Linked DNA regions of Homo sapiens. The protein of the gene in region 1 interacts with the protein of each later gene in a pairwise test. Each region holds a gene or a part of one and is shown in the gene's direction. Other genes may lie near its edges.

What was found.
Region 2: the proteins of WDR37 (region 1) and TRIP11 interact in a two-hybrid assay, tested with the Homo sapiens proteins (one large-scale study listed by BioGRID).
Region 3: the proteins of WDR37 (region 1) and COL12A1 interact in a two-hybrid assay, tested with the Homo sapiens proteins (one large-scale study listed by BioGRID).
Region 4: the proteins of WDR37 (region 1) and EIF4G3 interact in a two-hybrid assay, tested with the Homo sapiens proteins (one large-scale study listed by BioGRID).

Annotation. Positions count from the first base shown.
Region 1 is NC_000010.11:1,062,675-1,066,610, forward strand, and holds part of WDR37 (WD repeat-containing protein 37), read left to right. Parts: intron 1-3,936. UniProt on the Homo sapiens protein: Required for normal ER Ca2+ handling in lymphocytes. Together with PACS1, it plays an essential role in stabilizing peripheral lymphocyte populations.
Region 2 is NC_000014.9:91,967,060-91,970,559, reverse strand, and holds part of TRIP11 (thyroid receptor-interacting protein 11), read left to right. Parts: intron 1-666; coding exon 667-887; 3' UTR 888-3,500.
Region 3 is NC_000006.12:75,199,554-75,203,053, reverse strand, and holds part of COL12A1 (collagen alpha-1(XII) chain long), read left to right. Parts: intron 1-226; 5' UTR 227-261; coding exon 262-334; intron 335-3,229; exon of another isoform or gene 3,230-3,500. UniProt on the Homo sapiens protein: Type XII collagen interacts with type I collagen-containing fibrils, the COL1 domain could be associated with the surface of the fibrils, and the COL2 and NC3 domains may be localized in the perifibrillar matrix.
Region 4 is NC_000001.11:20,805,979-20,809,897, reverse strand, and holds the end of EIF4G3 (eukaryotic translation initiation factor 4 gamma 3), read left to right. Parts: intron 1-2,397; coding exon 2,398-2,579; 3' UTR 2,580-3,419; downstream 3,420-3,919. UniProt on the Homo sapiens protein: Component of the protein complex eIF4F, which is involved in the recognition of the mRNA cap, ATP-dependent unwinding of 5'-terminal secondary structure and recruitment of mRNA to the ribosome. Functional homolog of EIF4G1.

The DNA of each region.
Region 1 (3,936 bases):
CATATGCAATTTGAGAATAAAAGATGATTCTTGGCTTTCTGCTTGCGGAAAGATGGAGACTTATTTTTCCTTATTCCTCCCATGAAGTACATCTAAAAACACTGGACATATATAAAACAAATGTAAGAGTGGGCCGGGTGCAGTGGCTCACGCCTGTAATCCAAGCACTTTGGGAGGCTGAGGCGGGCAGATCACAAGGTCACAAGTTAGAGACCACTCTGGTCAATATGGTGAAACCTTGTCTCCGCTAAAAATACAATAATTAGCCAGATGTGCTGTTGGGCACCTGTAGTCCCAGCTACTTGGGAGGCTGAGGTAGGAGAATTGCTTGAACCCAGGAGGTGGAGGTTGCAGTGAGCCAAGATTGTGCCATTGCACTCCAGCCTGGGGAACAGAGCGACACTCTGTTAAAAAAAAAAAAAAAGAGACTGAAAGATGGAGAAAAGAAGGTAGACTTCCTTCGTACATTGGGACCACAGAAATGACACCAAACTTAGTTCTGTGAGTTTTCTTTTTGCCTCATGTATCTCATATGTTGTGCTGGATAAGCTAGCAGCGCAGGTATAAAAGGACTCAGACAAAACAAGGCCCAAGAAAAGCCTGCTCTCTGTGTCTGAAAGACCAGGAAAGGGGCAGCCTACAAATCACAGAACTTTTCGATGGTAAGTACTTTCCTCCAGCTAAATATCACAGGAAACCCTGCAGCACCACCCTCACCCTGCTAATCAGAGAACTTTTCGGCGGTAAGTACTTTCCTCCAGCTAAATATCACAGGAAACCCTGCAGCACCACCCTCACCCTGCTAATCAGAGGCTGAGCAGGTACTTCAGATTCCCACTCATGACAAGCTGGGATGAGATGCTCCTCTCTGCAGGGTTGCTGTCAGAGAAGACTGGCTGAGGAGTTGGGGTTTTACTTCTGCTGGGTGGTGACAGAGCACAGCCTCCTTTCTGCTAGGGTATCATAAGAGGGACCTTGCAAAACTCAGGAACTTTACTGCTGCCCTGTGGTCATGAGGCCACCCCCCTGTGGTGTGGGGGAGACTGTATAGGGAGCAGCACGGAGGCAGCCCTGATTCAGCCTTGGTGGTGGGAGTGGAAGTTCGGCAGGAGGCTGAACTTTCCTTCTCATGCAGGGGTCCGTGGAGGCTGAGTGGGAATCTCAACTTCCACCTCACCGTCCACATCCACCTGGCAGAGGCCTGCTCTAACAGAAGACTTACATCAGATCCTGAGTCTGATGTCAGGATTTCAATGGAAAATCACTCATAGGAAAATCTCAACCTCAGTAAGAAAAGACCACTGATGCCAACGTAGAGATGACACAGAGTTTAGAATTATTTGACAAGGACCTTAAAGCAGCGATTGTAGAAATGCTTCAATAACCAATTAACATTCGAGACAAACGACAAATAGCCTCAGGAAGAAAATACAGGATGTAAAAAAGAAACACAAAATTTCAAAAGTGAAAAATAGAATATGTGAAATAAATTCAGTGGATGGCTTAGCAGCAGAAAGGAGAGGACAGACAAAAGAAGCTGTCAATTTGAAGATAGAACAATAGAAGTTACCCAATCTGAACAGCAGAGAGAAAATAGACTGGAAAAAAGTGAGCAGAGCCTCAGGGGCCCGTGGGACTTTAACAGAAGATGCAACATCTGTCATCAGAGGTCTAGAAAGAGAGAAGGACGGGGTGGGGGGAAAACGTGTCTGAAGAAATCACTGCTGTATGTTTCCTAAACTTGGCAAGCCATACACCTTCAGACGTAAGAAGCAGCATAAACCCAGAGAAGATAAACACAAAGATGCTAAGACACATCCAGGCCAACTTCTGAAAACTGAAGACAGAAGCATAGTAAGAGAGATACCACTTGACCTGTAGTGGGAAACAATTTGAGTGACAATGGATCTTTTTTTTTTTTTTTTTTTTTTTTTTTTTTGAGATGGAATCTTGCTCTGTCACCCAGGCTGGAGTGCAGTGGTGTGATCTCAGCTCACTACAACCTCTGCCTCCCAGGTTCAAGCAGTTCTGCCCTAGCCTCCCAAGTAGCTGGGATTACAGGCATGCCACATCACGCCTGGCTAGTTTTGTATTTTTAGTAGAGACGGGGTTTCACCATGTTAGCCAGGCTGGTCTTGAACTCCTGACCTCAGGTGATCTGCCCGCCTCGGCCTCCCTCACGCTTGCTGGAATTACAGTCATGAGCCACTGTGCCTGGCCTGACAGTGGATCTTATCAGAAATTGTGGAGGGCATAAGGAAGTGGCAGGACATTTTTTTCAGGTGCTGAAGGAAAAGGACTATCAACTCAGAATTTTATATCAAGTGAAAACTTCCTTCACATGATTTATCTCCAGCTGACCTACTCTATGAAAATAACAAATAAAGGAAATTCTCCAAACAGAAAGGAAATGACAAAAGAAATGTGGGAACATCAGGAGGGAAGAACAAAGAATGGACAGCAAAAATATCGGTCAATTTAGTATTCGTTTATTTTCTAAATTGTGTTTGGAATTTGAAGCATAACCGTGGTGTGGTTCTCAGTGTATGTGTAGGAAATATTTGTGATTACGTTATAAATGGGGAAAGGTAAAGAAGCATAGAGGAAAGTAAGATTTGTATACTTTATGTGAACTGGTAAAATGTTGATAATCAGTAGACTACAATAAGCTGTAAATGTATAATGTAAAACCTAGAGCTACCACTAAAAAGTTATACAAAACAGGCAAACTCAGAAATACTGTAGGTAAATAAATATGAAATTATAAAAAATGTTTACCCCACGAGAAGGCAAAAAAGAGAATAGAGGGAGAGAGAATGAATGATACACCATGAACAAGTGCAGTTTATTTTGTGGCTACAAGGTTGGATCAATGTTTGAAAGTCATGAGTGTAATTGGTCCTGTCAGTAGGTAAAAAAAAAAAGCTACTAGGAAAAAAACATGATAGAATTCAGCACTCATTCGTGAAAGAAACTCAGAAAATGAATGATAGAGGGAAACGTTTTCAACTTGATAAACAGCACCTACAAAAAAATCTATAGCTGGCATCAAAGTTAATGGTGAAACACAATATTTTCACCCGAATATTCAGGGCAAAGCAAGGGTGTTTGCTGTCACTATAGTAATTTAAGATAGTACTGGAATTTCTAGCCAAATCAATAAGGTAGTAAAAGGAAATAGAAGGCTTACAAACCACAAAGGAAGAAATAAAACTGTCCTTTTTTTTTTTAGATGACTTAATAGTTGACATAGAAAATCCCAAGGAATCCACAAAAAATCTTGAACTTTAGGTTCAGCAAGAATGTACACGTTTAATACATAAAATCCAGTTGTATTTATACTAGCAATTAACGTGGAAACCAAAATAAAAGTACAGTATCATTTAAACTTACACAAAAAATAAAAAGAGAGATGTTAGTCTAAAATGGAGAAAAGATATGTAGGACTTTTTTTTTTTAGAAACGGAGTCTTGCTCTGTCACCCAGGTTGGAGTGCAGTGGCGCGATCTTGGCTCACTGCAACCTCCGCCTCCCGGGTTGATGCCATTCTCCTGCCTCAGCCTCCTGAGTATCTGGGACTACAGGTGCCTGCCACCACGCCCTGCTAATTTTTTGTATTTTTTAGTAGAGACGGGGTTTCACCGTGTTAGCTAGGATGGTCTCGAAGTCCTGACCTTGTGATCCGTCCACCTTGACCTCCCAAAGTGCTGGGATTATAGGCGTGAGCCACCTCGCCCAGCCCGATACTAGGACTAATGCAGAAAAAACCTTGACATGGAGGAAAGTAAGATCTAAATAAATACTGTATTCATAGATTAAAAGACTCAGCATAATAAATATACCATTTCTCCCCAGATTGATGTACAGATTTAACACAATTCCTATCAAGATCCCAGCAAGATTTTTGTAGATATGTAAAAGATTATTCAAAAATGT
Region 2 (3,500 bases), on another chromosome or scaffold:
TAGCATTGTTTTTTTATCAGAAAATGTTTTGAATTACCAAGAGTGAACATTAGTCAGATTTTAGCCATACAAATTAGTATTTGTGTTTAGGAATTGAGGCCTGTTTGTGCTTTCATTTTTTTTTTTAATTTTAATTTTTTGTTTTTGAGATGGAGCTTTGCTCTTGCCACCCAGGCTGGAGTGCAGTGGTGCGATCTCCAGTCACTGCAACCTCCACCTCCTAGGTTCAAGTGATTCTCCAGCCTCAGCCTCCCAAGTAGCTGGGATTACAGGCGCCCGCCACCATGCCCAGCTAATTTTTTATTTTGTGTTTTTAGTAGAGACGGCGTTTCACCATGTTGGCCAGGCTGGTCTCAAACTCCTGACCTCAGGTGATCCGCCCACCTCAGCCTCCCAAAGTGCTGGGGTTACAGGCATGAGCCACCGCGCCTGGCTGCGTTTTCATTTTGAATAAAGACCAGTCCAAAAAGATGTGCTGGATGCCAGTGTTATTACCGTCAAGGGAGAATTTTTAAGTTGATAAGTGATACATTGATTATTTTTATTTATCTATGCTAATCAATTTAACAATATTACACAGATAACTTTATGCTATTACATTCAGAGTTATTTCATTTTGACTTCTTTGTGAAAGATAGGAGACTAAATCCATATTTTATTCTTTAGATACAGCAGAATCCAGGTCTGGTAGAAGAACAGATGTAAATCCGTTTTTGGCTCCTCGCTCGGCAGCTGTACCTCTTATTAACCCAGCTGGACTTGGACCTGGTGGGCCCGGGCATCTTCTTCTGAAACCCATCTCAGATGTTTTGCCCACATTTACACCTTTGCCAGCGTTACCTGACAACAGTGCTGGGGTTGTGCTGAAAGACCTTTTAAAGCAATAGATGATTCTCAAGCCAGAGACAATCTAGCACTTTAAAGAAACCATGAACACTATATGTATGTACTTTATCACAAAGTGGCCTTTGGGGAGAAAGTCATGTATTTGTTCGCAATTATGCTTTCTCTGAATTTAATAAAAATATTCCTAATGCTTTTAGAAACTGCAGGTGTCAGGAGCAAGTGTTTGCTATATAATCTGCTTTATTCCTTCTGATTTGACCTAATTTAAGCTAGGAACATTTAATTTATCTTTTACCTTAATTTACAAAAATACAGACAGACAAAAATACTAGTAGCTATATGGCAGCTTTTTATTTCCTTTTGTGATTTCCAAGCTCATTTAAGCTAGAGATTGTGGTTTATCAAGAGAGTGTTTTTTTTTTTTAAACGAAGAATAAAAAAATACTAGTAGTGGCTTCTCTGCATAGTGCAGAAAGTTGATTTGAAGCATATATTGATCATCTTTAGAGGACTTTGTGGAGACAGGCCAACAAGATTGTTGCTGGAAGGTCATAGGTTCCCTGAGGTGAAGTATGTATTTGGTCCTGTGCAATATTATCATGTGTGTAGATTCTTTTTTTGTTTGTTTTAAATAGAGATGGGGTCTCACTATGTTGCCAGGCTGGCCTCAAACTCCTGGGCTCAAGTGATCCTCCCACCTCAGCCTCCCAAAGTGCTGGGATTAAGGCATGAGCCACTGCGCCTGGCCCTGTGTGTAAATTCATGTGACTACCACCACAGGCAAGACACGGAAGACTTCCATTACAAGCATCCCCCTGTGTTGCCCTCTCATAATCATTGCCACCTCTCTCCCTGGCCCTCTCCTTAATCCCTGACAACCACTTACTGTTCTCCATCTCAGTCATTTTGTTATTTTGAGAATGTTATATAAATGGAATCAATATATACCCTCTTGAGACTGGCTTTTTTTCACTCAGCATAATTCCCTTGAGATCCATCCAAGGCTTTGGATGTATCACTAGTTTGTTCCTTTTTATTGTTGAGCATATAGTGCAGATATATCACTTAGTTTTAACAGCTAAGGTATCTATTTAAAGATACCATCTTAAAACTAAATGTTACACAAATTCATGCAACTTTCATATAAGCATTAAACCATACAGCTGCATCTACGTAAGTATAATTAGCAAAATCACTGAACATGCCACTTCCTGCCTCCGTCTGCGGTGTTGACATATGAGGTACAGCAATCCGAGAGTCAACTGTTATCACGGTGGCCACTGAGGGCAGTGAAATCACTTTGATAGCACCAGTACCCAGATGTTTGAAACTTAAGAAAGTATTTCTTTAATTTTTCATAAACCCATCATAAAAAAAAAATCCCGACTTGAAACTTAACTGTATCTGGATGTTCATATTTTTATTAGTTGTTGAAGTTGTACATTTAAAAAGATATTTCTTGCAAATTTTGTAAATTTCTATATGCTTTTAAAATAGAAACATTTGTATAACAAGGAAGGATGAAAATAAAACAAATTCAAATATGTGAATAGTCCTGGCTGAGGCCAGAACTAAATTTGGTTATTTGCAAGTTTTACTGTGATTAACTGTACTTTCTAATGTATTTGGAAGACTGGAAGTCTTAATTCCATGTTGATGGGTGAAACTTGTTTTTCTGAAAAATGAAGTAACTGAAAATGCTGCTTCAGAATGTCTTGTATCTCCTTAGATAACTAATTTATATTGCCATTCTTTATTTACTATACTTTAAAGGAAGTTGTCATGCAAGTTCTATATTAGAACTGTCAAACTGCCTCTTGGTTTTTGCCTATTATTATTTCTCTGTGAGTTGTTACTCCTTGGTTTTTATATGCTCCTAACAAAGATACTTTCACTGACTATCCTACATTATTTGCTGCTTGCCATTGAAATTTCATTTCAGTGTGGAGAAATGAAATACTAGTTTCTAAGTTAAAAAAGACACATGGTCCTTTATTTTTAAGAAATAGAATATGTAAAAAGTTTTCTCTTTTAATTTGAAAAAGAGATGCATGGTTGGTATTTAAGTAGTATGTCATCATATTTGAAATGCCTTTTGTGACATTTTTGAGTATTTCCTTCTCTGACCAAAACAACTTGTCCGCCTCTCATCCCATGGTTTAACGTAAGTTTAAAAGCTGTTGTGGGTGGATTGCATAGCTAAACATCACAGAGCATGATATTAAATGGCTGCTATTTAAATAAATATGTGACCTTGTCCTAAAGCTATAATACTGGCCGGGCACAGTGGCTCACGCCTGTAATCCCAGAACTTTGGGAGGGTGAGGTGGGTGGATCACCTGAGGTCAGGAGTTCAAGACCAGCCTGGCCAACATGGTGAAACCCCATCTCTACTAAAAATACAAAAATTAGCTGGGCATGGTGGCAGGCGCCTATAATCCCAGCTACTCAGGAGGCTGAGGCAGGAGAATTGCTTGACCCCGGGAAGTGGAGGTTGCAGTTAGCAACCACTCCACTGCACTCCAGCCTGAGCGACAGAGCGAGACTCTGTCTCAAAAAAAAAAAAAAAAAAAAAAAAGCTATAGTACCTAATGTTTTCATTGTGTCATTGAAACTATAGCTGACTGGTATGTATACTAAGTGTTCGTTGATCT
Region 3 (3,500 bases), on another chromosome or scaffold:
ACAGGACCCTTTTTAAACTTGAACTTCCTCCTAGGGCCATGATTAAACTTCTGTAGACGAACTTGACTTCCACTGCTTCACAATAGGCCCATTATGTGCTGGAGTAGGCCCTGTGGTTTTTAAGGCAGATCTGGTCGGGTTCTGGACTAGGTCCAGGCTCCAGTTCTAACCTGGTTCAAGGCCTGCCCAGACCCAGTTCTGATGCAGTCACTACTTCCTCCCGCAGATCTCTTCATGCCGCTGTAAGCTCGGAGGCCAAGGATGCGGAGTAGGCTTCCCCCAGCGCTTGCCGCCCTGGGCGCGGCCCTGCTCCTGTCTTCCATTGAGGCAGAAGGTAAAAGGCTCCCTTCCCCTTCACCGAGTGACAATGCAAAATTCGAGAAAGGAAAAAACACATCTTTCTTGCTTCTATTGCTTGCTCTGTTTTCCCTGCGCTTCGTGCTTTCTCCGGTGGTTTCTCTCCTTCAGAGAAACGCCCCTTTCTCCTGAGGTTTGTCCATTTCCCAGCTCTCAGGTCCAGCTCTTTCGTATTCTGCTTAATGCATTCCGTACAGTGCTGTGTGGTCTTCTTGAGCTTGTCTCTGCGGTGTGCTGTCCACACTGCCACCTGCACTGCCGCCTAATAAGAGGACCAGCCGCCCGAGAGGGGGCGACGGCTCTAATCAGCGCAACCAACAGGACACCTCCGGGTGGCACCCAGGAGCCCCGAAGAGCGGGCGCACTCGCTCGCTTGGCTGGTAACCAACCACCTGGCTCGGGGCTGCGACCTCGGTGACAGAACACAATAAAAGACTCCAACAGCGCTGGCTCTGCGCCTCTGTGTGCTTTGTGGGGAGCTCAGTCGGCGGGGCGGACGGTGCGGGCAGATGAGCCAGCAGCCAAGCAGCCTGGGGGATGATGGCAGGCAAGCGGAGATCCGGGACCCCAGGTGTTCGCACGACCTAGGGTCGCGGCTGTCCCTGTTGGTTAGCAGGGCTCCAAGGCGCGTGGCCTGGACTGGTCCAGCTCAGACAGGTTGAGCCTGGGCCAAGGTTTCCAGCCTGGGAAGCAAGCGCGCGCCGGAGTTGCTGGGCACCACCTCCAGTGTCCTGCCCTTGCTCCATCCTGCCTCCCTCAGGGACAGCCGGGTGCGTCGGACCTTCCCGCGGAGGCAGTGGGGCGCTCCGAGATGGGTTTCCAAAACGGCGCCGTGTGGCCCCTCCTCTAGAAAATGGAGGGCTTTTGTTAGATGTCCCACCCAATTTTATTTGTTGTGTGCACTTGATGTCTTAATTTCTCAGTGTTCATTAAACAAGCCATTTCAATATGTCAACCCCATGGCGGCTTCTGTGGCCCCTCAGTTGTCACTGGAGACCTGACAAATTAGTTTTCTTATTCTGCAAAGAAAATGGGGTAATGTCATGAAAGATATCTTTTTTTTTTTTCAGTAAAGAAATACCCCTGATGAAGTTAAGGGAGGAAAAAAAACACTTCTGCCAAGTGACAGCTGTGGAAGTTCTGGGTTGAGGTGTGCTTTTTTAGAGGCTGTGAGAAAGTATGGTTGTTTGCATGATTATGCCAAGGTTTTCAAGGTTTCTATAGTGTTGGATTTTCTACTTCAAGACTACAGGTAAAAAAAAAATTAGGGGAAGCAGAGTGTTTCCAAAATGTATGGCATGTTAAGAAAAGTGACAGAAACTTGCTGACTTTTCTTAGCTGATGAATATTTTATGAATGTAGAGGCTTTTCAGAGTGGCCTCTGTGAAGTAATAGTCAGATGAAGTTGCTTTTAATGTTCCTTTCTATGTCGTTGTTAGGAAGGAATTTTATTTGAGGAACTTCTGGAGGCCCTACTACAGATATTTTTAGATAATTCACTGAAGTGGCCCATTTATTGCTCATTAAGAAAATAGTTATTTGAAAATCAGAAAGAGTTGAGAATTCTTAGAAAAAGAGTTAGGCTGGAAATGATGTAAGTGGAAAAAATTGATTCTGAATTAGATATTGGCTGGTTAGCAAAGTGCAGTTAGAAAGAACAGCTTACTATCTACATTTCTGATTATTCCCATATTATATTTTATCTTTTAAATTTGTATTTATTTCCATATGGTACAGCTCTTTTTTTTTTTGCTTCTTAATCTGTGTCTTTTCTTGTATCCCATCTCCTTAAGTTAGTATTTAATAATTATATTTTAATAGGATTCATTTTTTGGCCTTATTCTCTAGTTTGGCATTGTCAAATAGAAATATGGTATGAGCCACAAATGTAAGCCACATATGTAACCTACATTTTTTTCTGGTAGCCATATTCAAAATGGAAAAAGAAACAGGATAAATTAAATTTTATAATGTATTTTATTTAACCTAAATTATTTCATCATGGAGCCAATATGAAAATTATTAGTGAGATACTTGACTTTTTTTGTACTAAGTCTTTGACAATTGGGTGTGTATTTTATACTTACAGTGCAATTTATTCTTTAAGTTATTTTTATTTTTCCTGAGACAGAGTCTCGCTCTGTTGCCCAGGCTGGAGTGTAGTGGCTTGATCTCGGCTCACTGCAGCCTCCGCCTCCTGGGTTCAAGTGATTCCCATGCCTTAACCTCCTGAGTAGCTGGTACTACAGGGGTTTGCCACCATGCCTGGCTAATTTTTGTATTTTTAGTAGAGACGGGGTTTCACCATGTTGGCCAGGCTGGTCTCGAACCCCTGGCCTCAATTGATTCACCTGCCTCGGCCTCCCAAAGTGCTGGGATTACAGGCAGCACAGTTTATTTCGTACTGGCCACATTTTAAGAGCTTGCTAGCCACAGATGTCTGGTTGCTTCCGTGTCGGACAGCACAGCTCTGCTGTTGACTACTAAGTGGTGCTAGGGGCCTTTGAAGGGCTAACAAAATTTGGGGCCAAAGCCTTTCTGGGGTCACTGGGCTGGAACCAGAATTTCTTTGAAATATTTCTGTTGGGGGCATTTCAAAATTTCAACTTGGGACTCCATTTGGTACCATGCCATTTTGATCTGAGTCCTAAAGTAGCCACAGTTACGTTTCTTTTCCTTTCATGACTCACACTTGCACTCTTATATTCATACTATTTTATTACCATTTTCTATGACCTTAATGTTTTATATATTAAAAACCCAATACCTTTTTGAAAACATTAAAATGTTTTGGTATTCACTTTTTGCCTTTCTTCTTTTTTATAGTGGTAATATTTTTGTCTTGTTTTTCTTCTGCTTATTTGTATTAGGAGCTATATTTTTCATACTATGTTATCTTGTCCTATAGAAATAAGAGTGGAAATGATTTTTTCACTTCAGTATCTATAATTTTTAGCCACTGCAGAGACTTTATCAACCGCATCACTGCATAGACTTTATCAACTGTATCTGAGTGGCCTAGAATGTATGAATTATTTTTGGTTCATGTATGATACAGTATGTTAATTATCCTGTAGAAAACTTAACACTTTGCATATAAAGATTAATGGTCAGTATTCCCTGAGAACTGGGCACTTTTCTAA
Region 4 (3,919 bases), on another chromosome or scaffold:
CAGGCCTAATAAAACTTTCCACAGTGATGGTAGTATATATCCATACCATTGAGTATGGTAATCATGAGCCACATGTGGCAATTCTATACTTAAATATGTCTGTTGTGACTTAGGAACTGAATTATTGACTTTAAATTTAAATAACCATGTTTGACTAATAGCTTCCATATTGGACAACACAGGTCTAGGGCATGAAAATGGTTAATGATGTTGAGGATGATACTCTAGAATCTTTAGACACCCAACAAAGACCCTAAGTGTAGTGTATTTACCATGCTATATTTACTAAGGAGTTTCAGAATAGTTTTTAGTTAAGGGTTATGATTAATTCTTGGCTAATGAAACAAAGTAACCTGTACACTTAAGTCTTAGTGATACTTGGTGTTAACTAATGATTTTTATTACATCTTGAAAATTCAGTTGGTATTTGTTAAAGCGGGCAGTACATAGCTATTAGAGAGAGCACTCAAGTAGTTCTTTGGTACTTCCTTATTTTCGCTTTTGTAAAATTCCTTCTTTCCTAGTCCTGAATCGCTCTTGGAGATAAAGGAAAAGATGAAAGCAAATTATCCTTATAGTGTAACTGAAGAGACAATCTACCATGAATCAGATAATTTGATAATATTAGCTTAACTAATATAATTACAAAGATAAGTCTTTTTAAAAAAAGGCCGAGGCATGCAGATCACCCGAGGTCAGGAGTTTGAGACCAGCCTGGCCAACATGGTGAAACCCCGTCTCTACTAAAACTACAAAATTAGCTGGGCGTGGTGGCGCATGCCTGTAATCCCAGCTACTTGGGAGGCTGAGGCAGGAGAATCACTTGAACCCATGAGGCGGTGGTTGCAATGAGCCGAGATCATGCCACTGCACTCCAGCCTGGGCAAAAAGAGCAAAACTCCATTTAAAAAAAAAAAAGTTAATACGACTCATGATAAACCTAATATTGATTAGCATTTATTGTTTATTCCACTGCCTCCCTCCATTAATATAAATGATCGGAGAGCTGACTATAATAACTATAAGCTAATAACTTATTATATATGATAACTATAATTCTCAGTTTTACTATGAGAGTAAAACCGAGAATTAAAATCACACGGATAGTTTGGACGTTTAAAACAGTAAATAACAGGTGTAGTTTCACTGGATAAAATCCAGATGAGATAGCTTTTACTCATGTTTTCCATGTGAATGATCACCTCTTGTTCTTTTTTGAGACGGACTCTCGCTCTGTCACCCAGGCTGGAGTGCAGTGATGCAATCTCAGCTCACTGCAAGCTCCGCCTGCCGGGTTCACGCCATTCTCCTGTCTCAGCCTCCCTAGTAGCTGAGACTACAGGCACCCGCCACCATGCCCGGCTAATTTTTTGTATGTTTAGTAGAGACGGGGTTTCACTGTGTTAGCCAGGATGGTCTCGATCTCCTGACCTCGTGATCCGCCTGTCTCGGCCTCCCAAAGTGCTAGGATTAAAGGTGTGAGCCACCGCGCCCGGCCACCTCTTCATTTTTAAAACAACATTACAAGGAATAAAAAGCATATCCTGCCTTTCTCCCTTCCCCCAAATTTTGTAAAAATAATACAGTAAACTTGCAGCGCAGAAAATAGTAAAAAGAAAGTAAAAAACTACTCGTATTTAAATTTTATAGGGTTTAGATTGAGATAAACATGATATGAAACAGCTTCACTGGTATCAGAAGATAGTTCAGATTGGGCCGGGCACGGTGGCTCACGCCTGTAATCCCAGCACTTTGGGAGGCCAAGATGAGCGGATCACCTGAGGTCAGGAGTTCGAGACCAGCCTGGCCAACATGGTGAAATCCCTTCTCTACTTAAAATACAAAAATTAGCTGACTGTGGTGGCCGGCGCCTGTAATCCCAGGTACTTGGGAGGCTGAGGCAGGAAAATTGCTTCAACCCAGGCAGGCGCCTGTAATCCCAGGTACTTGAGAGGCTGAGGCAGGAAAAATTGCTTAAACCCAGGCAGGCGCCTATAATCCCAGGTACTTAGGAGGCTGAGGCAGGAAAATTGCTTAAACCCAGGAGGTAGAGGTTGCAGTGAGCCAAGATCGCACCACTGCACTCCAGCCTGGGGACAGAACAAGATTGTCTCTCAAAAAAAAAAAAAAAAAAAAAAAAAACAGAAAAAAAGTTCAAATTGTACAAAATAATAGGAATAAAAAAGAATTTAGACTGCTTCAATCTTTTTTTCCTCTTCTTTAAACAAGTTGTTGGGCTGTTTATACTGTCAAGAGCAAGTATGGTGAATTGTCATTATTGCTTTTTTCTGGGGGAATTAATGCACATTTATTCAGTCATTCATTATTTTGAAATATATTCTTTTCCTCATAACTACAGTGTCCCAAAGCTTATAGTTTATTTTCACCTCCTTGCAGATTTGCTGCGGATGTTTTTTGATTGTCTATATGACGAGGAGGTGATCTCCGAGGATGCCTTCTACAAATGGGAGAGCAGCAAGGACCCTGCAGAGCAGAATGGGAAGGGCGTGGCTCTGAAATCTGTCACGGCATTCTTCACGTGGCTGCGGGAAGCAGAAGAGGAGTCTGAGGATAACTAAAACTTCAAATACACAAAATGAAACAAAAGAAACAATTTAAGTATTTTTTTAAAAAGTTTCACGTCTTCGCCAATCACAGTGCAGCAAGGCCAATTCTCGCAGAAACCCCCACGTGTGCACGAGTGGGAGAGGGGAAAGAGAAAAAAAGGTGATCATGGAGGAAAAAGGTACTGGATAAAAGTAAACTTCAAACCTTAGGGCGGGAGCACTAAAACCAAAATACATGTATTATTTATAGAAAATATTTTCTGTTTTAATCTTTTCTTTTTAAACAAGGACTCATACTTAAAAAAATGTTTAGCAAAAAAAAAAAAAGTTGAGAACTTTTAATTTATTTTAAGGACTGCAAATGCCAGTGTAATTTTTTAATTTGCAGTTTCTGTAAACAACTTGTATAATAGAAAAGCAGAGAAATAAATTTCCCTCCCCTTCAAGATGCACCTCATGTTTGTTTTAAGGTATAGCATTTAGTCCAGATTTGAGAAAGTTTGGGGTGAACAAGGTAAGAAAGATTTTTTTTTTTTTGGCATCAAATCTTTCTGCCTGCCTCTCAGCTTGCTTCAGAAAATTTAAAAAATCACAATAGTAATCAAAACATACATAACATTGAAACAGAAGGAAATGCTGTGGACCACAGAACTCCAAGAATTGTTTAAAAAAAAAAAAGTGCTACCCTGAGAAAAGTACTCTTAATACTCTTGAAATCTTTAGAGCAACTTTAAGGCTTGTAAATACATAGAACAAATATTTAAAAAAACAAAAAGAAATTGACTCAGTACTATTTCTTTTCACTTTGAAAATATAAAGAACAAAATAAAGACAAACATTGCAAGTTTAAAAGAAAGTAAAGTGACTTCTCCTTTGGACAGCTGCTGCATGTGTGCCCATTCCTGGGGGTGCTGTCTGGCTATTTATTGTCTAATTCAAATCACTCCTGAGGGGAGAGAGATAAAACGAGAGAGAGTGAGAGAGTGTGTGTATGTGCGTGTATGCGCACGTATGTGCATGCACATGTATGTATGTATATGTCTCTACTCACTGAAAAGGCAAGCTACTTTGTGGGTAAGGAGGGCACTTGTGCTTGGGTGGGAATGCCCCACTGGGAGTCCAGTGAAACTTGTTTCCAACACTAACTAAAAATGCATTCAGGACAGTAGGCCTCAAGGGCAGTCCTTTAGATAACTAAGTTTTCCACTCTGTGTATCAGGACTCAGGACAATAATTCACTTTGAGACTGCCACTACCACTGATTTTAAAATCTTCCATCAATTGCCTGCAATGCTTAAGAAACCCAAAGATGTCCTCTAAAGAATGAATAAAACCAAAAGCTATATTATGCT